Linked DNA regions of Homo sapiens. The protein of the gene in region 2 purifies or fractionates together with the protein of the main gene of each other region. This does not show direct contact. Each region holds a gene or a part of one and is shown on either strand. Other genes may lie near its edges.

What was found.
Region 1: the proteins of GPR55 (region 2) and RUSF1 purify together in Homo sapiens (affinity purification with mass spectrometry; one large-scale study listed by BioGRID and IntAct). This does not show direct contact.
Region 3: the proteins of GPR55 (region 2) and STK11IP purify together in Homo sapiens (affinity purification with mass spectrometry; one large-scale study listed by BioGRID and IntAct). This does not show direct contact.
Region 4: the proteins of GPR55 (region 2) and ALDH5A1 purify together in Homo sapiens (affinity purification with mass spectrometry; one large-scale study listed by BioGRID and IntAct). This does not show direct contact.
Region 5: the proteins of GPR55 (region 2) and FASTKD1 purify together in Homo sapiens (affinity purification with mass spectrometry; one large-scale study listed by BioGRID and IntAct). This does not show direct contact.
Region 6: the proteins of GPR55 (region 2) and MYO19 purify together in Homo sapiens (affinity purification with mass spectrometry; one large-scale study listed by BioGRID and IntAct). This does not show direct contact.
Region 7: the proteins of GPR55 (region 2) and LPGAT1 purify together in Homo sapiens (affinity purification with mass spectrometry; one large-scale study listed by BioGRID and IntAct). This does not show direct contact.

Annotation. Positions count from the first base shown.
Region 1 is NC_000016.10:31,491,392-31,494,891, reverse strand, and holds part of RUSF1 (RUS family member 1), read left to right. Parts: intron 1-955; coding exon 956-1,026; intron 1,027-1,104; coding exon 1,105-1,289; intron 1,290-1,367; coding exon 1,368-1,425; intron 1,426-1,843; coding exon 1,844-1,914; intron 1,915-2,551; coding exon 2,552-2,695; intron 2,696-2,805; coding exon 2,806-2,883; intron 2,884-3,500.
Region 2 is NC_000002.12:230,908,243-230,911,742, forward strand, and holds part of GPR55 (G-protein coupled receptor 55), read right to left. Parts: intron 2,855-3,500; 5' UTR 2,721-2,854; coding exon 1,761-2,720; 3' UTR 1-1,760. UniProt on the Homo sapiens protein: G-protein coupled receptor that binds to several ligands including 2-arachidonoyl lysophosphatidylinositol or lysophosphatidylglucoside with high affinity, leading to rapid and transient activation of numerous intracellular signaling pathways.
Region 3 is NC_000002.12:219,607,857-219,611,356, forward strand, and holds part of STK11IP (serine/threonine-protein kinase 11-interacting protein), read left to right. Parts: intron 1-190; coding exon 191-574; intron 575-726; coding exon 727-932; intron 933-1,240; coding exon 1,241-1,357; intron 1,358-1,506; coding exon 1,507-1,684; intron 1,685-2,014; coding exon of another isoform or gene 2,015-2,025; exon of another isoform or gene 2,026-2,270; intron 2,271-3,396; exon of another isoform or gene 3,397-3,500. UniProt on the Homo sapiens protein: May regulate STK11/LKB1 function by controlling its subcellular localization.
Region 4 is NC_000006.12:24,532,969-24,535,337, reverse strand, and holds part of ALDH5A1 (succinate-semialdehyde dehydrogenase, mitochondrial isoform 2 precursor), read right to left. Parts: intron 1,832-2,369; coding exon 1,626-1,831; 3' UTR 1-1,625. UniProt on the Homo sapiens protein: Catalyzes one step in the degradation of the inhibitory neurotransmitter gamma-aminobutyric acid (GABA).
Region 5 is NC_000002.12:169,556,866-169,560,365, reverse strand, and holds part of FASTKD1 (FAST kinase domain-containing protein 1, mitochondrial), read left to right. Parts: exon of another isoform or gene 1-1,442; coding exon of another isoform or gene 1,443-1,453; intron 1,454-3,068; coding exon 3,069-3,179; intron 3,180-3,500. UniProt on the Homo sapiens protein: Involved in the down-regulation of mitochondrial MT-ND3 mRNA levels which leads to decreased respiratory complex I abundance and activity.
Region 6 is NC_000017.11:36,510,869-36,514,368, reverse strand, and holds part of MYO19 (unconventional myosin-XIX), read left to right. Parts: intron 1-643; coding exon 644-740; intron 741-863; coding exon 864-940; coding exon of another isoform or gene 941-1,000; exon of another isoform or gene 1,001-1,283; intron 1,284-1,485; coding exon of another isoform or gene 1,486-1,495; intron 1,496-1,589; coding exon of another isoform or gene 1,590-1,711; intron 1,712-2,913; coding exon 2,914-3,004; coding exon of another isoform or gene 3,005-3,010; intron 3,011-3,451; coding exon 3,452-3,500. UniProt on the Homo sapiens protein: Actin-based motor molecule with ATPase activity that localizes to the mitochondrion outer membrane. Motor protein that moves towards the plus-end of actin filaments. Required for mitochondrial inheritance during mitosis.
Region 7 is NC_000001.11:211,796,264-211,799,763, reverse strand, and holds part of LPGAT1 (acyl-CoA:lysophosphatidylglycerol acyltransferase 1), read left to right. Parts: intron 1-3,500. UniProt on the Homo sapiens protein: Lysophospholipid acyltransferase involved in fatty acyl chain remodeling of glycerophospholipids in the endoplasmic reticulum membrane.

The DNA.
Region 1 (3,500 bases), on a different chromosome or scaffold from region 2:
TCAGCCTGGGCAATATAGCAAGACCCATCTTTACCAAAAAATGCAGTAATAATTAGCAGAGGCGTGGTGGTAGGATCACTTGAGCTCAGGAGTTTGAGGTGGCTGTGAGTTATGATTGCACCACTGCACTCCAGCCTGGGTGACAGAGCGAGACCCTCGCTCTTTAAAAAAAAAAAAAAGTACACATTAGTGAGTGCCTGAGTGTGGGTCTGTTCTGGTGACTTGCAAGACAAGATGTGTTCAAGGGTATTCCGAGGGCACCTACCTGGGCAAAAAAGCAACTGATACACATATGTATTTAGACAGGGTATCACTGTGTCTCCCAGGCTGGAGTACAGTGGTGCAATCATGGCTTAATTTTTTTTTTTTTCTTTTTTGGAGACAGTCTTGCTCTGTTGCCCAGGCTGGAGTGAAGTGGCGTGATCTCAGCTCACTGCAACCTCCACCTCCCAGGCTCAAGCAGTTCAGCCTCCTGAGTAGCTGGGAGTAGAGGCACGCGCCACCATACCTGGCTAGTTTTTTGTATTTTTACAAAAATGCAATGGGTCTCACCGTGTTGCCGAAGCTGGTCTTGAACTCCTGAGCTCAGGGAATCTGCCCACCTCGGCCTCCCAGATTGCTAGGATTACAGGCGCGAGCCACTATGCCCCACCAAATTTTTAATTTTTTTGTAGAAATAGGGTCCCACTATGTTGCCCAAGCTGGTCTCAAGCTCCTGGACTCAAGTGATCTGCCCACCTCAGCCTCCCAAAGTGCTGGTACTACAGGTGTGAGCCACCTCGAGCTGGCATCTTTTAAATGACATTTCACCCACCAAAAACTAAAAATTTACCCACATTGCAGTAAGGAGCCCTGGGAGGTTGTGGAGCAGGGAGGATGAGGTGAAAGGCACTCGGGCACTCAGTCTGGCCTGGAGGGGCACCTTCCAACTCCTTCTCCCTCTGCCATTTTCCAGGAGACGCTGGTGAACCTGGCGGGGCTCTTGGTCAGCCTCCTGATGCTCCCTCTGGTGTCAGGTTGCCCTGGGTAAGCCGGAAGCAGGGTGGGCAGGAGAACCCCAGCTGGGCCTCTGCCCACTTCAGCTACCTCACTCTCTCACCCCAGCTTCAGCCTTGGATGTTTCTTCTTCCTCACTGCCCTCCACATCTACGCCAACTACCGCGCGGTCCGAGCCCTGGTCATGGAGACCTTGAACGAAGGCCGGCTCCGGCTGGTCCTGAAGCACTACCTTCAGAGGGGAGAGGTACTCGACCCAACTGCAGCCAATCGCATGGAGCCGCTGTGGACAGGTGACCCTGCCCCTGGTCTCGGGTCCTGTGTCTCAACCTCTCCCACTGCCTAGGCATCCTGACCCCAGCTTCCCACAGGTTTCTGGCCAGCTCCGTCTCTATCCCTGGGGGTCCCCTTACACCGCTTGGTCTCCAGGTGAGTGGCCTAGCGTCTCCCGCTCGTCACCACCGCCACCCACACTCCCCTCACTCCGATTACACACTGGCCTCCCTGGCAAGGCCCCACCTCTCTGTCCTGGGTTCTTCATTGCTGCTGAACAGACATGGGGTTGGTGTGGGTGTGTGAGGAAGGAAAGGGTGTATAACATGAAGCAGATGTAAGAGATGTGCTTGATGGGTGAAGGAAGGATGGGTAGATGGGGAAGTTGGATGACTGGATACAGGAAGAAAGGATGGATTTGGTGTGTATGGGTAATGGCTGAGGGAGAGAGGAAGCGAGGGGACCTGAGTGAAGCCTGGATCATTTCAGTTCACTGGGTGGCTGTTCAGTGGCTGGTTGGGCATGCCTGCCTTTGCTGTCCTCCACCCCCACTGCACTGTCCTCTCCCCCACAGTGTCTTTGAGCTGCAGCAGCTGGTTGAGGGGCACCAAGAATCCTACCTCCTCTGCTGGGACCAGTCACAAAGTGAGTGTGCCTCATTCTCCCAGCCTAAGACGCACCCTCCCAGGTCAGCCTCTCATTCCTCCAACCTAGGGCCCCGAGCTCTGGGCAGTTTGGAGGCTGCCTGTTCTGGGGGTTGCTCTAGACCGTTCAAATTACAGCTGCAATGCCCCAGTGAAATTCATGTCACCGCTTTGTAAAACAGAGCTAACAGTACCTGCCTTATTCCTTGCGGTGTTTTTATGAGGATCAAATAATGTGACTGCAAAGCTACATTGCAGCACTCTTAGGAAGGCTATGACCTTTGCTGTCCGTGGGAAACCACCCTTCTCTCCATCCTGGGTTGCCTCTTGGGTAAACAAGTCCTTGAGTGTGCTGGTCCGCTGGTTGAGTGTGAAAAGGTGCTTATTCTCACTAGCCATTAAAGAAATGCAAAATAGACCCAGCCCAGTGAGCGGCTGGGAAATTGTATTTGGAAATTGGTCAGTTTGGCCCGAACATTGGGGAGCAACAGGAGATGAATTGGAAAGGAAAGGGTGAGGTGCTAGCCTTCCGTGCCAGGCCAAGGTCTTGGGGCAGACAGGGGAAGCAGGGTGATGGGATAGAAGGGGTTTGGGAGGTGGCCCTTCCCTGATACCAGTCTGTCTCTGGGTCCCTCCAGACCAGGTACAGGTAGTTCTGAACCAGAAGGCAGGCCCCAAGACCATCCTAAGGGCCGCCACACATGGGCTGATGCTTGGGGCCCTGCAGGGAGATGGACCCCTTCCAGCAGAGCTGGAGGAGCTGAGGAACCGGGTGCGGGCAGGTAAGTGCCTCAAGATTTAGACTGCTGATGCCTCAGGGTGGGGAGGAGAGAGGACAAACTCTGTCCTGCTGGAGGACACAGAGCTTCTGGTTCTGCACCCCCGTACCCAGGTCCTAAGAAAGAGAGCTGGGTCGTCGTCAAGGAGACACACGAAGTGTTGGACATGCTGTTCCCAAAGTTCTTGAAAGGTAACATCCCTCAGCCCATGGCTGCTTGGCCCCTGAAGCCTTGTCCCTGGGGGCCCCGCCTTCCCCCACTCCCACCCTTTCACCTGAAAGGTAAAAGACTTGGGTTCTTGGGCCTGGTGCAGAGGCTCACACCTATGATTCTAGTGCCTTGGGAGGCCTAAGTGGGCAGATTGCTTGAGACCCTGCCTGGGCAACATGGCAAATCCTTGTCTGTACAAAAAAAACACAAAAATTAGCCAGGTGTGGTTCTGCTCTTGTGGTTGCAGCTACTCAGGAGGCTGAGGTGGGAGGATCACCTGAACTGGGGGAGGTCGAGGCTACAGTGAGCCATGATTGTACCAGCCTGGGTGACAGAGCAAGACCCTCTCTCAAAAAAAAAAAAAAAAAAAAGACTGTCGGGCACAGTGGCTCACACCTGTAATCCCAGCACTTTGGGAGGCCAAGGCGGGCAGATACTTGAGCTCAGGAGTTCAAGGCCAGCCTGGGCAACATGGTGAAACCCTGTCTCTACCAAAAATATAAAAAAATTAGCTGTGCATGGTGATGCACGCCTGTGGGACTGTCAGGAGGCTGAGATGGGAGGATCACTTGAGCCTAGGAGGCAGAGGTTGCAGTGA
Region 2 (3,500 bases):
GGTCACTCCTCCACATCCACTTCCACCCCTTCATTGACGCTCTCTTCCTCACCCTTCCCTCCATCCACCTAGGAGGAGGTGTACAGGGTGCCACTTGAACACAGCAACAGCGGGAGCTGCTCCTGAGAAGGCGACTCCTGTCCGTCCATGGCTCTTAGGCCAGCTGGGAAAGCTCTCAGGCAGGAAGCAGCTCAGCCAGGTTCCCCACCCACCCTGCACTCCCTGCAGGCTTCAAGCCTAGGGCCACGGCTCAGCTTCCCCTCCTTTTCCTCTTCCTCTTCCTCCTCCTCCTCCCCACAGGTCCAGGTTTATCCAAATGCTTCTCTTCTTCCCCTCAGGTCACCACCCCTCCCAAGCCCTTCAGCCCCCACTGAGCCCAGATCCTACAAGTAGACCTCAGTTGCTTTTCCTCCTGAAGACCTTGCTCACATGAAGTCTCATCAGTTACTCCTCATCCCACTCGCTCTGTCATGCAAAACCACCCCACAATGGATCCTTCTCATCATTTCACTCTCCGGAGCAGCTGAGTCATTGGGAGGCTTCCGCTGTCACTTGCACTCCTCCTCCAGATCCGTTGAGAAGCCATCCAGGCGTGACTCAATTGTTTACAGTTTCCTGGGACCAGCAGGGACCCCCCCTTGCCTTCTTTCTCAAGGCCACACCCTTGTGCCTAGCTGCCTCATCTCCCTCCCAGCTGCCAGGGAGGGACGGCTCCATGGGCAGTGCCACGGGTGCCAGCTGCCCAGCCAGGATGCAGGTGAGTAAGACAGCACCTCCTCCACCCTCCTATGGTGGAACCAAGGCAGGCCTGATTCTTTGCCATTGTTTTCAAGGAAGCTAGCTGTAATGAGCAACTTCCCAGTCTGTTTAAGATAGAAAGCAGGTCGGGGTCTCCCCGCTCCCAGGCCGTCTCTCACTGTCTCTCTTCACCCTGGGCCAGCACCAACACTCCGTGCTGTGGACACCCTGATGGTGATAGGGGAGGGGCTGTGTGCTTCCAGCCCTGGGCCTGTCTTCTTCCTTCCCCAGAAGTGTCCTTTCCTCTCCCCCCTCATGGCTCTTGGATGTCATCAACACCCCACTCAGTCATTTTGCAGTCTTCTCACGGGCACGGAAAGGTGTGGCTGGCTTCCTTCACCTTTCTGAGGCTCACTGGAAACTTGGGGTGATCCATGCTACTTGCCCAGCCCCAACACCACCCCTTCTTGCTGTCATCTCAGTGAGGCTTTTGGCAACACAGTTCCAGAAGGGACTGGAAAATGCAAGTCTGCTCTGTTCTGGGACACCCAAACTAAAAAGGGACTTCACTCATCCCTACCACCCCACCTCTGCCCAAGACACTCTCCCCAATAACTGACTCTCTTGGCTCCCTCCTTTACCTCTTTTCTCTCTCTCTCTTTCTTTCCAGAACCTCCCAGTCGAACAGGAAAATGGGGAGAGTTGGAAACAGCCTTGTTGACATGGTCTCATTCTCTTTCTCAATTCTTCTGCTCTATAGTTTTTGGACTTAGAAATCAGTAATTCACCTGGTCTGTGGGTTCTTCAGAGATCCCTGAACACTGGGTGGTATAAGCTGTCTGGGCAGTGGAAAAAAGGTCTTTGGGGTATAATGAGCAAAGCTGGCACTCAATGGGCATCAAAGGGAAGCACATCAGTGAAGATGGTGCGGATCATCCCACCACATCAAAACCCTGGAACGCGATATCCGTTACCAGAATTCAGGGCCAGGGCTTTCTTCCCCTGAACAGGATGTCCTTCCGTTAGCCCCGGGAGATCGTGGTGTCCTGCAGGACCAGCTGGACCCTGGAAGGCCGGTGGGCCCTGATGTTCATGCGGAATTCTTTGATGACAAAGTAGTAGCAGAAAACATCCAGGCAGCAGTTGACGTTGGAGAAACACATGGACAATTGCAAGAAGAAGCTGATGCTCTGCTTGGCTCTGCACTCTACGATAAAGCTGTTTCTCACCAGGAACTGCAGGAAGAACCCCAGGTGGACTGGGAGGAAGGAGACCACGAAGACAGCCAGGCTGGCTGCGATGCTGTAGATGCAGGCTTTCTGCTGCACCCAGTCCTGGGTGTGGTCTCGGCGGCCCAGCAGGATGTGGATGCTCCTGGAGCAGCAGAAGCCCATGATGCCCATGGGAAGGAGGAAGCCAAACACCTCCAGCGGGAAGAAGACCTTGGCGCTCCAGGTATCATCAGACATGTTGTGGAAGCACATGTATTTTTCCACTTTCCCATGGAAACTGTAGATAGGGATGCTTCCGGTCCACACCAGGACCCAGATGGTGCAGCAGATCCCAAAGATCTTCCTGGGGGACCGGAGGTGGCTCACCAGTAGCGGGTAACGGATGGCCAAGAACCGGTCCATGCTGATGAAGCAGATGGTGAAGACGCTTCCGTACATGCTGACGAAGTAAAGGCACTCCACCAGGGTGCACAGGGACGGGAAGGGGGACTGTACCTGGGACAGGACCATCTTGAATGGGAGGGAGAGCACCAGCAGCAGGTCAAAGACTGCCAGGTTGATCATGTAGATGGAGGTGGCAGCATAATCGGGCCACCTGTTCTTAAGGAAGGTGCTGAAGCCATGGATGGCCAGCAGGTTGAGGAGCAGGCCCAGGACGAAGGTGGGGATGTGGACTGCAAACTGTAGGGTTTTCATCAGCTCGTTGACACCGTCAAACAGGCAGTCCCCACTGGTGTTTTGCTGACTCATGTTTCTTCCTACAACACCAACAGATCAGACGGGGCTCCTTTCACTCTCTTGAAGTGATGGATTCAAATGACTTTGTCAAGAATCACAAACACCTCCCCAGCATCACACAGCAATTCATGCCCATTGAATCACAACTAGAACACAGAAAAGAAAAATTACCTTTAATCCTGCTGCCCAGATGCAACCACTGTTACTTTTTGTGTATATCATTCCAGACTCGCTTTCTCACTCTCTTTCTACCATACACACATTTTTCTTTGACAAATATAGAACCTGCTGTGCATGGACATCTGTCTTTTAAATCAGAACTCCTTTTGTTGAAAGAAGTAACAGCACATACCCAGACCCAAACAGGCTGAAGCAAAGAGACAGTTTCACATAATGGAAAACATGAAAACTAGGGTAGGGCTGACTTCAGGAGCAGCTGGATCAGGGATTCAAATGCTGTTTCCAGGACTCAGCTCCTTTTGTCTCCTTTGTCCTCCTCCCACCCACTTTCCTGATGGTTGGACACAGTCAACCTGCAACCAGGGATGATTGACACCAGAGCGTTGCATTCCCCTGGACACAGTAGCTGGTTAGTTCATTGGTTCAGGGACAGATATTTGACTCTCCAAGAAGCCATGATAATCAACACAACTTTTGCTTGGGTTTCCAGGCAGAGGGTTGGAGTCCCTTGTCAGGGATTCATAGTTGCCAAGATATAAGGTCTGCAGCTGCTGCAGCCTCTTGTACCCCAAAGAGAAAACCAGACAGAAAATGGAGAGATATGGGAGAAAT
Region 3 (3,500 bases), about 11 Mb from region 2:
ATTGCATGTGACCACAGGGTTCCATAGGACACGCTTTAGTACATGCCGCGGAGGGGACGCCTGTAGCCTCCCTTGCCCGTGTCCCCATACACAGCCCATCGCCCCCTCATCGCTGAGGAGCACCGTTGAAGGATTTGGGGCCATCTGTGTGGGGCAGGCTTGCTCAGTTCTGGGTTCCCCTCCTGCCTAGGATGGTTCGTGCAGCAGCACCCGGAGCTGGAGCTCATGAGCAGCTTCCGGGAACGGTTCGGCCGCAACTGGCTGCAGTACAGGAGTCACCTGGAGCCCTCCGGAAACCCTCTGCCGGCCACCCCCACTACTTCTGCACCCAGTGCACCTCCAGCCAGCTCCCAGGGCCCCGACACTGCACCCAGACCTTCACCCCCGCAGGAGGAAGCCAGAGGCCCCCAGGAGTCACCACAGAAAATGTCAGAGGAGGTCAGGGCGGAGCCACAGGAGGAGGAAGAGGAGAAGGAGGGGAAGGAGGAGAAGGAGGAGGGGGAGATGGTGGAACAGGGAGAAGAGGAGGCAGGAGAGGAGGAAGAAGAGGAGCAGGACCAGAAGGAAGTGGAAGGTGAGCCCTTTGTGGGCTGGGGCGAGCTGAGGCCAGGGGCCCTTGGGATGTTTGTGAGTGGTGGGGCCTGGCGGGTGGAGGGCCAGTTCGGGGGAGGGCAGAGTGTGGGTACTTTCCCTCCCTGCAGGCCTTTTCTCTTGGTCTCTCCACAGCGGAACTCTGTCGCCCCTTGTTGGTGTGTCCCCTGGAGGGGCCTGAGGGCGTACGGGGCAGGGAATGCTTTCTCAGGGTCACTTCTGCCCACCTGTTTGAGGTGGAACTCCAAGCAGCTCGCACCTTGGAGCGACTGGAGCTCCAGAGTCTGGAGGCAGCTGAGATAGAGCCGGAGGCCCAGGCCCAGAGGTCGCCCAGGCCCACGGTGAGTGGGGCGTGGCAGGGTCTCTGGAGGAGCCAGTTATGGGAACATGGCTGTTGTGTGCCCTGCACTGGGCTGGGCATTTCTTTCAGTCTCTCCTTGGCACTAGGAGCCGAGGAGGGGAGCCTCAGAGGTTGCAAGCACTCGGGAAGCTGGGCTGAGGAGCAGGGATTCTGTGCTGGAGCTTGGACGTCAGTACAGGCCTTTGACAGGCTTCAGAGGTCCTGCCATCCTCCATGCTCTCAGCATCCCCTCATCCCTCTGATCACCGCCCCTGCTGTTTTTCACCCGGTCCCCCTCTTGCTGCGCAGGGCTCAGATCTGCTCCCTGGAGCCCCCATCCTCAGTCTGCGCTTCTCCTACATCTGCCCTGACCGGCAGTTGCGTCGCTATTTGGTGCTGGAGCCTGATGCCCACGCAGCTGTCCAGGTGATGGCGCCCAGAGTGGGGGCCCAGGAGGCTGTGGGGATTAAGAGAGCCAGAGGGAAGTGGCAGCAGGCCTGAGGGCCGGGGGCCTGTGGGAGGTGTCCGTCTGGGGTCCGCCTGCTCACAGCTGCCTCTGATCCACCCTCTGTCAGGAGCTGCTTGCCGTGTTGACCCCAGTCACCAATGTGGCTCGGGAACAGCTTGGGGAGGCCAGGGACCTCCTGCTGGGTAGATTCCAGTGTCTACGCTGTGGCCATGAGTTCAAGCCAGAGGAGCCCAGGATGGGATTAGACAGTGAGGAAGGCTGGAGGCCTCTGTTCCAAAAGACAGGTACAAGTCCTGCCCTTGACCTCTCTGCCCACACGCCTCCCCTGTTCCAGGGAAAGTGGCTCTGTGTAGGGGAGTGTGAAGGGGGAGCCCTAGGGAGAAGGGGCTAGAGTGGAGAGCAGTTGTTCTGCCTGGAGGAAAAAGAAAACCGTCTGCCTGCTGCATTTACAAAAAGGAAAACAGAAAAAAAGAAGAAACTATATCCTGTTTTTTTTTTTTTTTTAACTCTAAAAGTCAGGAAATGCAATCTCTGTAACTGTGCTTAAACATACTCATTATTTTTTCATAACTTGAAGGCTTGTTGTGTTGGGGATTTTTTGGCTGATATTTCAGACACTACATAAAACCTAATGAGCCCTCACTGCAGTATTGGATTGTGGTGCTGCCTCTGCCAGCAAGTGTAGCTGTTGAGTGAGATGCTTGGGGAGTTGGCTTGGTTTATCCTTCCCGGCTGACCTTGGAAGGTACATAATGTCCTGTGGCATTTCTTCATGCGCTAGTCCTTAAAACAAGAATTGTTTCCATTGTAGACCAGTCAGCACTATCTTTGAAGAAGACATTGAAGAAGAAATAAATATTCTTGATAACAGCTCTGTGGAAATGCCAGAATTTTATTAGACGGTTTTCTCTTCTTGGCGGCAGCTGGAGCAGGGGTTTAGATTTTATTCAGAAAATGGAGCCCTGCTCCATTCCCCACTGTGAACTGGCCTGGGCATGCAGCCTTAGTGACACAGCGCAAACAGAAACAGCCCCCAGCCCCTCCCGGACCCTGGCTGTACACCATGAGGTGCTGTGGTCTCTGGAGCCTCTTCCATGGTGGCGTTATTAATGAACATTACTGTGGGCTCTGTTCTCCTTTAATTTTTTTTTTTCTTTTTTTTTTGAGACGGAGTCTCGCTCTGTTGCCCAGGCTGGAGTGCAGTGGCACAACCTTGGCTCACTGCAAGCTCTGCCTTCCGGGTTCACGCCATTCTCCTGCCTCAGCCTCGCAAGTAGCTGGGACTACAGGCGCCCACCACCACACCCAGCTAATTTTTTGTATTTTTAGTAGAGATGGGGTTTCACCGTGTTAGCCAGGATGGTCTGTCTCCTGACCTCGGATCTGCCCACCTTGGCCTCCCAAAGTGCTGGGATTACAGGCGTGAGCCACCACGCCCGGCCAACCATTCTCCTTTCACTTGCACCTCAGTTACCTCCTCTGAACAAAGAAGGGAATGAACTCACCCCATGGTGCTGTTACGCTATTTAAATGTGACAGTAAGGCACCAAGCAGAGGGCCTGGCACAACACAAAGGTCTCCTGTAAATGGTAGCTGCTGCCGTTGTCCCCAGCTGTATGGTCCTGGGCAGCATGTGTAAATGATTTAATATTTTCTTTCTTCTTTGCAAAATGGGATAGGGAGAGTTTCTCTGGTGATGAAATGCGATCATAGTGGCATAGGAGGTAGCGCATGCCCATCACGGTGTAGCTGCTCAGAGTGCTGCCTCTCTCATTGCTGATCCATGTCCTGATTCCTTCCCAGCTTCCTGACACTAAGGATGAGTATAAGATAGATGCTATTGTCATCCCTGTTTTATAGACGAGGAACCAGGCTCACAGAGCTTAGATGACTTGCCCATGATTACAGAGCCATTAATTGATGGAGCCTGGAATTGGACCGAAATTTGGCAACAGAGTTCTCTGCCTTTCCAGACCTGTTGATTTTGGTCTTTCAGACGTTGCTAGGAGAGCCCTGAAGTACTTGATCAGCCCAAGTCTGTAAGAGGGCATAAGAGCAGGTCCTGGTTGTGTTTGGCCCAGTCTGAGAGGGCCTAGAGTT
Region 4 (2,369 bases), on a different chromosome or scaffold from region 2:
CCTTGGGAATGTGGCTAGTACACTCCAGGCCAGATGCTAGGCAGCTCCCTGTGTGCCCAGGGTCTTGCCAGACCTTTAGTTACTCAACCATAGCTTCCCAGTGGCTCAATGAGGGATGTTAAATCCTAGGTGGGGTTCAGGAGTAATTGCATCCAGCACTACTTTCATTCACATTTTCCTTCCACAACCCAGAATAACCACAAGATGTAAGTGGAGTCTACACAGACAGAGATGGGGAAAGGAAGGTGCTTCGTCTCCACCTACTTGGCCGCCTAATTGGATTTGCATCTGTTTAAGATTACGGAGTCTTTCTTTCAAAGTGAGAGGCAACGCCGGTCATAGCGGCTTTTGTTTTTTGTGCGTTATTTGAATGATGAGCTGTAAAAACTCTCATTAGATAAAAGGTGCCTGAAATTCAAGGGCTCATGCCTCTTCTACAAAGTGGGTTGGCAATTACAGAAATTCTTTCCCTTTTGGGTTGACTGTGGTGAAAGTACTTTTGCTCTTTTGGAGGTGAGGGAGCAGCACCACACCAGGACAGAAAGAACAGGCTCAGGTGACAGCCACTTACTCAGGCTCAGGTCGGTGGGCAAGTGGGCACTGGCCTCCTCCCATCTTGGCAAAGCCACTGACAGTAGGCAAGGAAGGGCTGGGCGGTGCTGCTCGTAACAATGGCTCTTGTATGTCCTTAGAATTTTCATTTTTTTGTGAAGTGCTTTTACTTTCTCTCTGGCTCACAGTATCGCAAGGAGCTAAGTAAGGCCTGTATGGAATCTCCACTGTATCCATGGGATGGGAGGTGCTGAACACACGCCCAAGGCAACAAGGCCACTCAGGGAAGGAGCCAGGCCATGCCACTGCGTGCCTTCCATCCTACCAAGCTGCTTCTGCTATTCTTTGCTTTACACTTCAGCTCATTTACTCAAGGAAATGAAATGAAGTGGCAAACAGGACAGAAATGAAAATAGAATTCTTTAAGTGGTAAATTTGGGACAATAAAGGCATCAATTAAAATATGGTTCAGGAATAGGGAGAGGTGCTCCTTCGTGCCTCACAGAAGCACGGACAATTCTGTGCTATTTATTGTCTTTGAAAGAGGGTTCACTCAAACCTCTGCCGCAACACCTCCAGATGCACATTCGGTGTCTTCTGTGCTGAGCTGGCAGATGCCGGGGAGGGGTGCTGTGCCCCTCACCTGCCTGCCAGTCACAGTCAAGGGTCTCCTTCAAGGTGCTCTGGGCCCATGTTCTGTAGCGACATGGGGGATGGTTGTGCCACTGCCCAGGCAGTGATCAAGCCTTTGTGACGGCCCATGGGGCTGGGCCTGCCTTGTGCTGTGCCTGCTCTGAGGCAGCTGGGGCTGTGGTGGGGAGCCAGGGCCTCATTCTGTAAACCCAGTGCTGGTTCTCTGGGAGTCTGCAGCCACAGGCACGTGGCACATATTGGTCCCTAGTTACATTAAGGGCAGGGGTAGGATTTGCATCTGTTTAAGATTACAAGGACTGGATGAGTTCTGAAAAATTCATAATTCTGAAAACCTATTAGTTTATTTAAAATAATGGATGGCATGTACCTATATATGTAGATAAGTCTCCTTTTAAATTTTTTTAAAGAACCAAAGAATCCTACAAGCCCCCGTAACACACATACTTGAGTTCCAGATACTCATCAATGCCATACTTGGACCCCTCTCGCCCAAGGCCGGACTGCTTCACTCCACCAAAAGGGCACTCCACAGAGGAAATTAATCCTTCGTTGACGCCAACCATGCCCACTTCCAGCTGCTCTGCCACTCTCCAGATCTGGGCTGGGTCTTGAGAGTAAAAATAACCTGTCACAGGATAAAAGGACATATATGGCATTTAGAAGAGTCATTAAAGACATCATGCCTAAAGATGAGGGCACCATTGATGACTTTTTGTCCAGCCACTTGGGCCTGGAGTCTTCCCTGCTCCCAGATAAAGTCCCAGGTTGGTCTTGTCCACTTTTTCATCTCAAAACCTTTGAAAGTCACCTCTTGCTTCAATTCTACTCTCACTATCTCCTATCGAGACCCTCTTCCTGTTTTCTACTATTCAATCCACCTGCACACCTGTTAGATTTCCACACGACATTTTTGCCCAAGCCTTTCGATGACTCCTGATTATAAAATAAGGTTAAATTCATTAGTGGGTATTCAACACCCTCTCCCCCACAAGTAGTTTCAATCAACATTTCTGGCTTCATCTTCCATTACTCCAATCACCAACCATCCTCTCCAAACCTGTCAGCCAAATTCTCCTCACCCTTTCTTACTTTGCTTCTCAACTCCCTTGGTGCCCTCTGCCCAGAATCTCTCTCCTCCAGCTTCTGCACAACCAGAATTCTGC
Region 5 (3,500 bases), about 61 Mb from region 2:
TTACTTTTTTTGTTGTGAATACGTGGAGCCTTCAAGCTTAGGTCTCCTTGCAGCTCTGGAAGGTACAAATATCACCCTATTAGGTTGTGGAAGGGAAAATAATCTCTTATGCTCTGCTCCTTGATTCTTTTTCTGATTATTCTAATTTACATCTCAAACTCTTAGTCTGTTGCTGTGTTCTGAAAGGTAAACCTCTGATACTGGGCCAACATGAAAAAAAATGAGGGGAAACGCCATGTGTTTTTATTCTCCCTTTTGTGCTACATGACTGGATTTACACATATAAGACTCCCCCACCCAGTGTAAGTCTGTGGAATATTTAGAATTATAGTAGTCATAGCAGAGGGCCATTTTATGCTTTGCTGTCTTCATCACAATAATCATCAAAGCATTTATTATGCACTGGGCATATGTTCCCATGTCAGGTTTGAGCAAATTTTGTGTGGCGCCTCTCATTTAGGAATTTCCAGTTTTGCTAGATACTGATGTAGGTAGTAATATTTGAAATATAATGATGAGCAAATATTAAATTAACATACAAATACGGTTAATAGATAAGAGTTTCTCTTCCTAGGCCATGTGACTGGATTTATACTAGACATAAACTTCCCCCACCCAGCATAATTGTATGAAATATTTAGAATTACAAGCTGGGCACGGCGTTGCACGCCTTTAATCCCATCACTTTGGGAGGCCGAGGCAGGTGGATCCCTGGATCCCAGGAATTTGAGACCAGCCTAGGCAAGATGATGAAACCTTGTCTGTACAAAAAAATACAAAATTAGCCAGATGTGGTGGTGCCCACCTAGATTCCCAGCTACTCATGAGGATCACCTGAGCCCAAGGAGGTTGAGCCTGCAGTGAACTGACATTGCGCCATTGAATTCCAGCCTGGGCACAGAATGAAACCTTGTCTCAAAAGAAAAAATAAAAGAAAAAAATAAGAATTTTATATAATAGTCCTAACACATAAGTATGATTAGTAGATTCACTTAAGCAGGGGTTCCAAGACTTGCACAATAGGGGAATCTGTATCATTACTCTGTTAGGGAAAACTTTACGGAGAAAGTTTTATTTTTTAAGAGTACTTTGTGGCTGGGTGCGGTGGATCATGCCTGTAATCCCAGCACTTTGGGAGGCCAAGGCAGGTGGATCACCTGAGGTCGGGAGTTCAAGACCACCCAGACCAACATGGAGGAACCCCGTCTCTACTAAAAATACAAGATAAGTCGGGCATGATGGCAGCGCCTGTAGTCCCAGCTACTCGGGAGGCTGAGGCAGGAGAATCGCTTGAACCCGGGAGGTGCAGGTTGCAGTAAGCCAAGATCGCGCCATTACACTCCAGCCTGGGCAACAAGAGCGAAACTCTGACTCAAAAAAAAAAAAAAAGTACTTTGAATTATATGAAAAAATTTAAGAGCACATCTTAAGACTATATCAAGATGGAAACAAGGTGATTATTAAAAAAAACTATTGGGGCCCAGCACGGTGGTTCACACCTGTAATCTCAGCACTTTGGGAGGCCAATGCTGGCAGATCACTTGAAGTCGGGAGTTTGAGACCAGCCTGGCCAACATGGTGAAACCCCGACTCTACTAAAAATACAAAAAAAAAGGGCCGGGTGTGGTGGCTCATGCCTGTTATCCCAGCACCTTGGGAGGCTGAGGCGGTTGGATCACTTGAGGTCAGGAGTTCGAGACCAGCCTGGCCAACATGGTGAAACCCCGTTTCTAGTAAAAATATAAAAAATTAGCCGGGCGTGGTGGTGGGCACCTGTAATCTCAGCTACTTGGGAGGCTGAGGCAGGAGAATCGCTTGAACCTGGGAGACTGAGGTTGCAGTGAGCCAGGATTGCGCCATTGCACTCCAGCCTGGGCAACAGGAGCGAAACTCTGTCTCAAAAAACAAACAAAAAAATACAAAAAATAATTAGCCGGGAGTGATGGCAGGTGCAATGGTGGGCATCTCTAATCCCAGCTACTCTGGAGGCTGAGGCAGGAGAATCGCTTGAACCTGGGAGGCGGAGGTTGCAGTGAGCTATCATGCTCCTGCACTCCAGCCTGGGCAACAGAGTGAGACTCCATCTCAAAACAGACGAAGAAACACACACACGAACAAACTTTATTGGAACCGTTTTTTGTCACCAAGTACTGTTAAAATCTCAGTGCTAAAGCAATAAAACAGTTGGGTTTAACTGAGTCTGTCTTCAAGGAATTTATATTGCAATTGAGAGGATAGATATAATTGAAATATGTAAATACTGTAACAACATAGTTTATGAAGAAACAATAAAATTAGTGATATGGATAGTGCTGTGAGCAGACAGAAGTGAGAGAAAAATATAGACTGAAGTGGTTGGGAAAAGTTTGTGGAGAAACTGGGTTTGAAACCTTTGAAAAGGTTGGTGGAAAGGATGGCATGGAGTTATCCATGTGAATAGACAATTAGTTTATCCTATCAGATGTCACGTTTCGAGCTTGCTTTCTAAATGATTCTAAAAAATACACGTATCATGGTACTTAACATTACTGCACTACTTTGGATAGTTCAAATGACAACTAATCATAGTCAAAATGGACCAGCTTTGTTAATTTTCAGTTTATACTGTTATATCAAGTGCTTAGTATATGAGATTTCTGATAATATGCAGGTTTATTGACTCCTAGATGTTCCTATTCAGTTTTAAAACATTTGGGAAATTGTCAGAATATCAACTGTTCATTTCTTAGCTCTCTAGTATTGAATAATTTCACTGAATCATAGTATTTTATAACCATTATAACCTTGTATTATTTGAAAATCTTAAAATATCTTTTACCTGTATTTTTCAAACAGTTTAAGATTGGATTATAATGAGGCCTGAATTTCATTGAAGAAGACAATATATTTTTCTTTATTCAGTAATATTTTATATTCGAGTAATGTGGGGAGAACACTAGAATTATATATTGGATTCAGTTTTTGTTTATATTTTTTTTCCTATTTGTTACCCAAGAACTGTTATTTAAAAAAAATTGCAAGCTAATTTTCAGTCTTTCAACCAAAAACTTTTTTTTTTTTGCTTCTAGACTTAAATCAACTATGTTATTGATGTCAGAGGACCTAACTGGCGAGCAAGCCCTGGCAGTGTTGGGAGCAATGGGAGATATGGAAAGCAGAAACTCATGTCTGATTAAAAGGTATCTTTTCTGAAATTTACGACGTTAAGTTTGTTGTCATTCACAAGCACCTATTTTTTTCTAAGGAAAAATGGTTTTCTTCTTTAATCTACCAGTTGTTTTGAAGAAATAAGGAATTAATGCTTAAGCCACTGTTTATGTTCTACTTTGTTTTTCTTTTCTTTTTTTTTTTGTTTTTTTGAGACAGAGTCTCACTCTGTTGCCCAGGCTGGAGTGCAGTGGCACTATCTCTGCTTACTGCAACCTCTGCTTCCCTGGTTCAAGCAATTCTCTTGCCTCAGCCTCCTGAGTAGCTGGGACTACAGGCGCCCACCACCATGC
Region 6 (3,500 bases), on a different chromosome or scaffold from region 2:
GAATGCTCCATACCTGGTTCCTTCACCTAGCTTTTGATGGAGCCACCACTTTATCCTGCAGACTTTACATGCAGCACTTCTGCCTCACACTGCGCCTTGGCTCCCAGCACAGTTGTGGCCTGGGAGTATGTTTTACCTCCTCCATCAGACCAGAAGGTCCTTGAGGCTGGGACTGTATCTCTAGGGTGGAAGCCGTGTCACTCTTATCATTTTAAGGGCTCTCCTAGAATGGCATCTGTCGCTAACAGAACAAGGGCTTCCCTAGAGTTGTGCCTTTTCCATCGGACTGGGAGTCCCCCAAGGCATGGATAGGATATCTCCCTTTCTCTCAAAATCGGAGCATCCTTAGGTGATGGGTATGCCTCCCACGTCAAGACGACGGACTCCCTGGGCAGGAGTTGTCCTTTTTTCACCAGACTGCAGGTTTCCCTAGAGCAAGGTTCTTTTGCATCAGGTTGGAGACATCCAGGGCTATGTTTACGGCATCTTTTGCCCCCATACCTGCCGTGGGCTCTCGGAAGGGACCTCTGAGCCTTGTGATGTTGCTACCAACTCTCCTCTTATCCCAACCCCATGCCTGCCTATGCAGGCCTGGGCTTTTCTCAGACCCCCTACCCAGCCTCCCACCTACCCTTCTCCACAGATTTGCAAAGGAGCCAGTGAGGACGAGAGGCTCCAGTGGCACCTTCCTGAGGGAGCTGCCTTCTCCTGGCTGCCCAACCCAGAGAGGAGCTTAGAAGGTAAGGGGAGCCCCATCCAGCACCTTGCGCTGACCCAGCATCACCCACCCACTCTGTACAGAGCCTGCCTCCCTCGCATCTTGCTGCTGCTGACCTCTGCCCCGAACTTGGATTCTTTTTCAGAGGATTGTTTTGAGGTGACCAGAGAGGCCATGCTCCATTTGGGCATTGACACCCCTACCCAGAACAACATCTTTAAGGTCAGAAGAAAAGCCACGCCACTTAAGTTTGGCAGAGATGACGGGCAGCCCTTTGCATAGAGCTTTTCCCTGGACTTGGAGTTGGTCTTTCCCTGAGGATCTAGGACTTTGGGCCCTTCTGTGCTACCTCCAAGGAATCAGTCACCTCTGTTCTGCTGAGTCTGGAGACCAGGTGGTGGGGTGGACGGGGCATAAGGAAGAGTGATGCATACACAGTGCTAGAGTACAGAATGCAGTAAGTGATCCATGGGGGCAGAGAGCAAGGTACCGCATGATCAGAAGAGAGAACTAGTGCTACCGCCTTGCTTGTCTAGTACATTAAAACTTACAAGTCATGTTCACACTTCTCTGCTCACTTAGTTTTTTAAACAGTCCTCTGTGTGTGTTTATTTCCCTTTATGCCTGAGAAAACCAGAGAGGTAAAGTGACGTGCCCAAGGTCAGATACCACTAAGTGGTGATACAGAGTACCAGACATAGTAATTCCAAGTTCCTACCCTCTCTGTCTTCCCCCAACCCGTGCCCCGTCGTCCTCTGGAACATGAGACTGCCCCAGGTGAGCTGGGCTCCTCTCAGTCACACTAGGGGGGCCTCCCTTCTGTCTTTGCTGACAGAGCTGACTACCTCCTCTCATCTTCCTCACCCTCTAGAGCAGCAGGAGGGGATAGATAGGATGGCCTGGCAGTCGAGAAAGGGAGGCCACTTCAGGGAGGTAGCAATGCAGTGGAAAGTGACCCTCACCTCCAGATGGGGGCTGCTCAGACACTGCCAGGTAAGAACTTGACAGAAGGACAGTACCTGGGGACAAGCCCAGGATAAGTGGACAACACTGGGAGTCGGGGCAGGAGTGCTTTGGGGGTGGGCATGACCCTCTGCCACAGCCCTTCTGCCTGGTGGGCATGGCAGTCTTCTGGAGCAAGTTGTGGCCGGAAGACCAGTAGCACATGGAGGCACCCTGCCTGGGACCATATAGGAATGGTGGGTGGGGTCCCTGTGTCAGGTCTGAGGGTGGTGGTTTTTTCTTTTTTTTTTTTTTTTTTGAGATGGAGTTTTACTCTAGTTGCCCAGTCTAGAGTGCAGTGGCACAATCTCAGCTCACTGCAACCTCCTCTTCCCGGGTTCAAGTGATTCTCCTACCTCAGCCTCCGAGTAGCTGGGATTACAGGCATGTGCCACCACACCCAGCTAATTTTGTGTGTGTGTGTGTGTGTGTGTGTGTGTGTGTGTGTGTGTTTATTTTTAGTAGAGATGGAGGTTCACCATATTGGTCAGGCTGGTCTTAAACTTCTGACTTCAAGTGATCCACCTGCCTCAGCCTCCCAGAGTGCTGGAATTACAAGCGTGTGCCACCATGCCTAGCTGGGTCTGAGGGTTTTGAAGTTGCTGGGCCTTGGTGGGGTGAGGGGAGCTTCTGTCTATAGCCCCAGGGGGCTTGTCGGTGTGGAACATTGAGTACAAAGGCAAAGGGGCACCCATCGGACACAGACCAAGGTCACAGTGCCTCCAGCAGGCTGGGCTCTCAGAAGCCTGACAGTGGGAAAGGGCTCAAGGAAGCAGAGACAAGCCTCCAGCAGGCACACAGAAGCAGCCCTGCCCCCAGTCACCAGTCTATTCCTAGAGAGCAGGGGGCAGAAATGTAGAGGATGGGTGGGCATGGAGGCCCACAGGCTGCCCCAGGAGACATCTGAAGTCAGCCTGGGTTCTCATCCCACCTTTCCCCTCAGGAAGCACGTGTCCTCAGTCTCATCTCTATCATAGGCAGTGGCGTAGCACATACCTTACAGGTTGTTGAAAAGTTGCAATGAGGCGATGCATGTAACTTGTATAGAATTGTGTCTGGCAGAGATGGGCACTTGGGCCATGATTGGGAGCTGCCCTTCTGCTGTCGTGATTGTACTCAGCAGAACGGCCCTTCCCAGAGTAGGCCCACGTCACGCCCTCTCCTACTCCCACCCATCCTTTTCTTTCCCCCAGGTCCTAGCTGGACTGCTGCACCTTGGCAATATCCAGTTTGCTGCCTCCGAGGATGAAGCCCAGCCCTGCCAGCCGATGGATGATGCCAAGTGTGAGGGTCAGGGTGTAGGATGGGGCAGGCCCTGTCAGGAAGGTAGCCAGCATTGCTGGGGTTGGGTGGAAGGCTGGATGGTGAAAATTGGAATCTGATGCCCTTGCTTATGCCACCCACCATAGGGCCTGGCCCTGGATCATTTACTCCTCACCCTGTCTGGTGAGGCAGACAGTATCGTCCCCATCTTAAAGATGAGAAAATGAGTCAGAGGTTTGTAAAGTGATTTGTCCCATACATGGCAGCATGGACTGGTACATGAAAGTGCTGGGTTTGAGTTCTGACTGCTGTTTATGGAGTCCTTTGGGTGAGTCACTTCACTGATCAGAACTTAGGTTTCTTCTGTCCAGTTGGGCAAGTCATGGTCCCGCTGTGATGACTTCACAGTGCCTCGTGAAGAGGACTGGATGGAGAGTGATTTGCCTAAAGAGGATTTGCCCCTCCCAGACTCTGTCAGGACGGCAGCCTCGCTGCTGGGGCTCCCAGAGGACGTGCT
Region 7 (3,500 bases), on a different chromosome or scaffold from region 2:
ATACCTGCCCCTTTAGACCTGGTTATTATTCAACTGTCATTGAGAAAAATGCTTGATTATTTGGCTATATACCTCTCTACCCCTCCTTATTGTTGCCATCCACCATCCTTATTTGTTGAGGACTTTGGGACTTGGCTTGTCCACCCTATTCCCTGGCATAATCATGGGCAACTTTAGGGGCTGCAAGGGCATTTATCCAAGTTCCTGTCCTTAAGGTTCTTTGACATGAAGCATGCCAGCAGTGACAATATGATATTGTGGTTTTGAATCCCAGTTCCCCTACTTCCTAACTATGTAAGTTTGAAAACAGTGCTTAACCTTTTGTGCCTCATTTTCCTCATTTGCATATTGGGGATGATACTATCTGCATATTTGGAATTTTGTGAAGATTAAATCAGAAAATAATGTAAATTATTTTCTATTACTAAGTACTAGTGCATGGCACATAATAAACATTCCATAAATGTTAGCTATTAAGATTATTATTTATATATCTATTTAATAATATCTGCTACTATTATTATTTTAGTTATGTAACCCCTCCAAAAGCTACCTCTTGAGCCTTGCTTTCTCAAATTTTAACCTCTTAAAATTTAAGAGTCAAAGGGACACTGACCATGATTTCCTAGTGTGTACAATGTACTTGCTTAAAAAAAAATAAAATTAAACTTATCAGCACTTCAATTCCAGTGGTTCTTATTTAGAAGTATGTATTAGGAGGTTTTTCAAAAGTCTGGGCCTTCCCTTGGGAAGCTTGACTAGAATGTTATGGAGATGGGGGTGGCATCAGCATCTCTATGTATGATTGCCCTCCCTCCCTCTCTTTTCTAGGTAGTCAGCTGTTTGTTTGCAAGGCTGCTTTTCCTCACCAGTCTCCACTCCATTAATCAGTACTTTAAGCCACTCTCTCATGGCCACTTTTAATGAACTAACACCCTCCCTTGGATGAATCCAATCCTGTCTGCCTCAAACCTGGACTGCTGAAAGCCACAGTTCTCCAGCTATGTGAAATTCACTTATGGATTATTTTGGCTCTCTAATTTTTTATTTGTTTTTTGTTGTTGTTGTTTGTTTGTTTTTAGAGAGAGTGTCTATATATGTCAACCAGACTGGAGTGTAGTGGCATGATCACAGCTCACTACAGCCTTGAGCTTCTGAGCCCAAGAGATCCTCTGCCTTAGCCCCTAGAGTAGCTAGGACCACAGGTACATGCCACCACACCCAGCTAATTTTAAATTTTTTTATAGAGACAGATCTCACTTTGTTGCCCAGACTGGTCCTGAACTCCTGGCCTCAAGGGGTCCTCCTGCCTCGGCCTCCCAGAGTGCTGGGATTACAGGTATGAGGCACTGTGCCCAGCTGGCTCTTTAATCTTTACTATTAGACTGATTTTCATATGACACAGTAGGCATAGGGCTCTTTTAGTTACTAGTGATTCCAAAAGTGACTTTAATCCCATTACTCAGGATCTCTATGGTACTGTCAATTAGATCTTCCTCATTTTTGCAACATGTTTACGTAGCATTAATGATATTATTGTTTCATAAGTGAGAAAATGAAGACACAGAAGGATAAAATAGTTTGTTGCATCAGCTTGCGGGCATAATAAGCAACCTTTCTTCTCTCTGTTAATTCTGTTTTGTAGGCCAGTATAATGGCTTTAGTGTCACTGTTGTTAAGGAGTTTTTGATGGGTTGTTTCTATTTTCTTTTTGAGATGTGAACTGTCCAGATTAATTCTAATCTATAACTTTTGGGAAAAGTATATTGATATACATGTTAGAATGTGTGTGTGTATGTGTGTGTGTTGTGTGTATGTAGTAGATGATAACCTTTAGCTTTGGTTTTCAATAAGAATTTTAAAATTTATTACAATTAGAAAATTTTTCCTCCAGTTTTTATTCAGTTGTCCTTTTTCCCTTTGGAAATAGTGGACCTGACCCAATTCTTTTTTGAGAATTCATTTCATAGAGCAGCGTGTTAGAATATTTTTGTTCTTCTAATCAAGTGCAGTGTAAGAACTGTAGACATCCATAATTTCTTTTCTATCCCTTGGTTAAGATATTAGCTTTATTACTATATTTACTGGTCCTGGAATAGCAAGGCATAATCTGAGGAGCATAGCTACTTCATCTGTGTAATAAATTGCTCTTTCACTACAAACATTTTAATACTGATTTTGTTGGTCATTTAACTTTCTAATAGTGGTCCTTAAATTATGCTCTAAAAGAAGAATACCATATATATTGGAAATTAAATTTGTTGTTGAATAAAATTAGAATTATTATAAAATTCAACACGACCTTATTGCTACCTCAGGATAATTTCTTGGCAAAAAGTTGATCCAAACTGGGTGTGGTGGCTCATGCATGTCATCCCAGCACCTTGGGAGGCTGAGACAGAAGGATTGCTTCAGCCCAGGAGTTCCTGACTCAAAAAAAAAAAAAAAAAAAGAAAAGGAAAGAAAAGTTGATCTAGGTACCTTCATTTTGTTTTGTTTTGTTTTTTTGAGACAGAGTCTCGCTTTGTCACCTAGGCTGGAGTGCAGTGGCTCAATCTTGGCTCACTGTAACCTTTGCCTCCCAGGTTCAAGCGATTCTTGTGCCTCAGGCTCCAAAGTAGCTGGGATTGCGGACATATGCCACCACACCTGCTAATTTTTGTAATTTTTAGAAGAGACAGGGTTTCACCATGTTGGCCAGGCTGGTCCCGAACTCCTGACCTCAAGTGATCCACCCACCTTGGCCTCCCAAAGTGCTGGGATTATAGACGTGAGCCACCACACCTGACCACCTTCACTTTTTTGATTCAGCATGCTATGTGAGTCTTGGTAAATTGACATTTGGTCTGAAAATAAATTTTGGCTAAGTTCTGATTGAGAGATAAAACATGTAGTGGATTAACTCTTAATAATTATACTTTAAAGTATAATTTCTGAAAGTATTTAGAAGTGAAAATTAAAAACCATTTATAATACATAATGTTAGATTATATATAATGTGCTGAATATTAAAAGATAATGCAATTCTTTTCCTATACTTGATAAGAAAAGAAAGACTATAATTTTGGGGAAAATAGAATGGAAAGGGAAGAGAGAGGATGGGGAAAATTGAGGGAGGGGTTATGTTAATTCCTTAGGGCTGCCATAACAAATTACCACAAAGTGGGTTTTACAGCAGATATTTATTCTTTCACAGTTCTGGAAGTTAGAAGTCTTGAAATCAAGGCGTCAGCAGGGCCATGCTCTCTCGAAAGACTCTCAGGGAGGCTCTTCCCTTGCCTCTTCCAGCTTCTTCTGGTGGTTGTCCACCATCCTTGGTGTCCCTCAGCTTGTAGGTGCGTCACTTCAATCTCTGCCTCTGTCATCACGTGGTGGTCTCCCTGTGTGTCTCTCTGACCCACATTTTCCTATTCTTATAAGGACTCCAGTCTTATTGGATTTAGGTTTAGGGCCCACCCTAATCCAGTATGACCTCATCTTGATTCACAGATTTTGGGGGG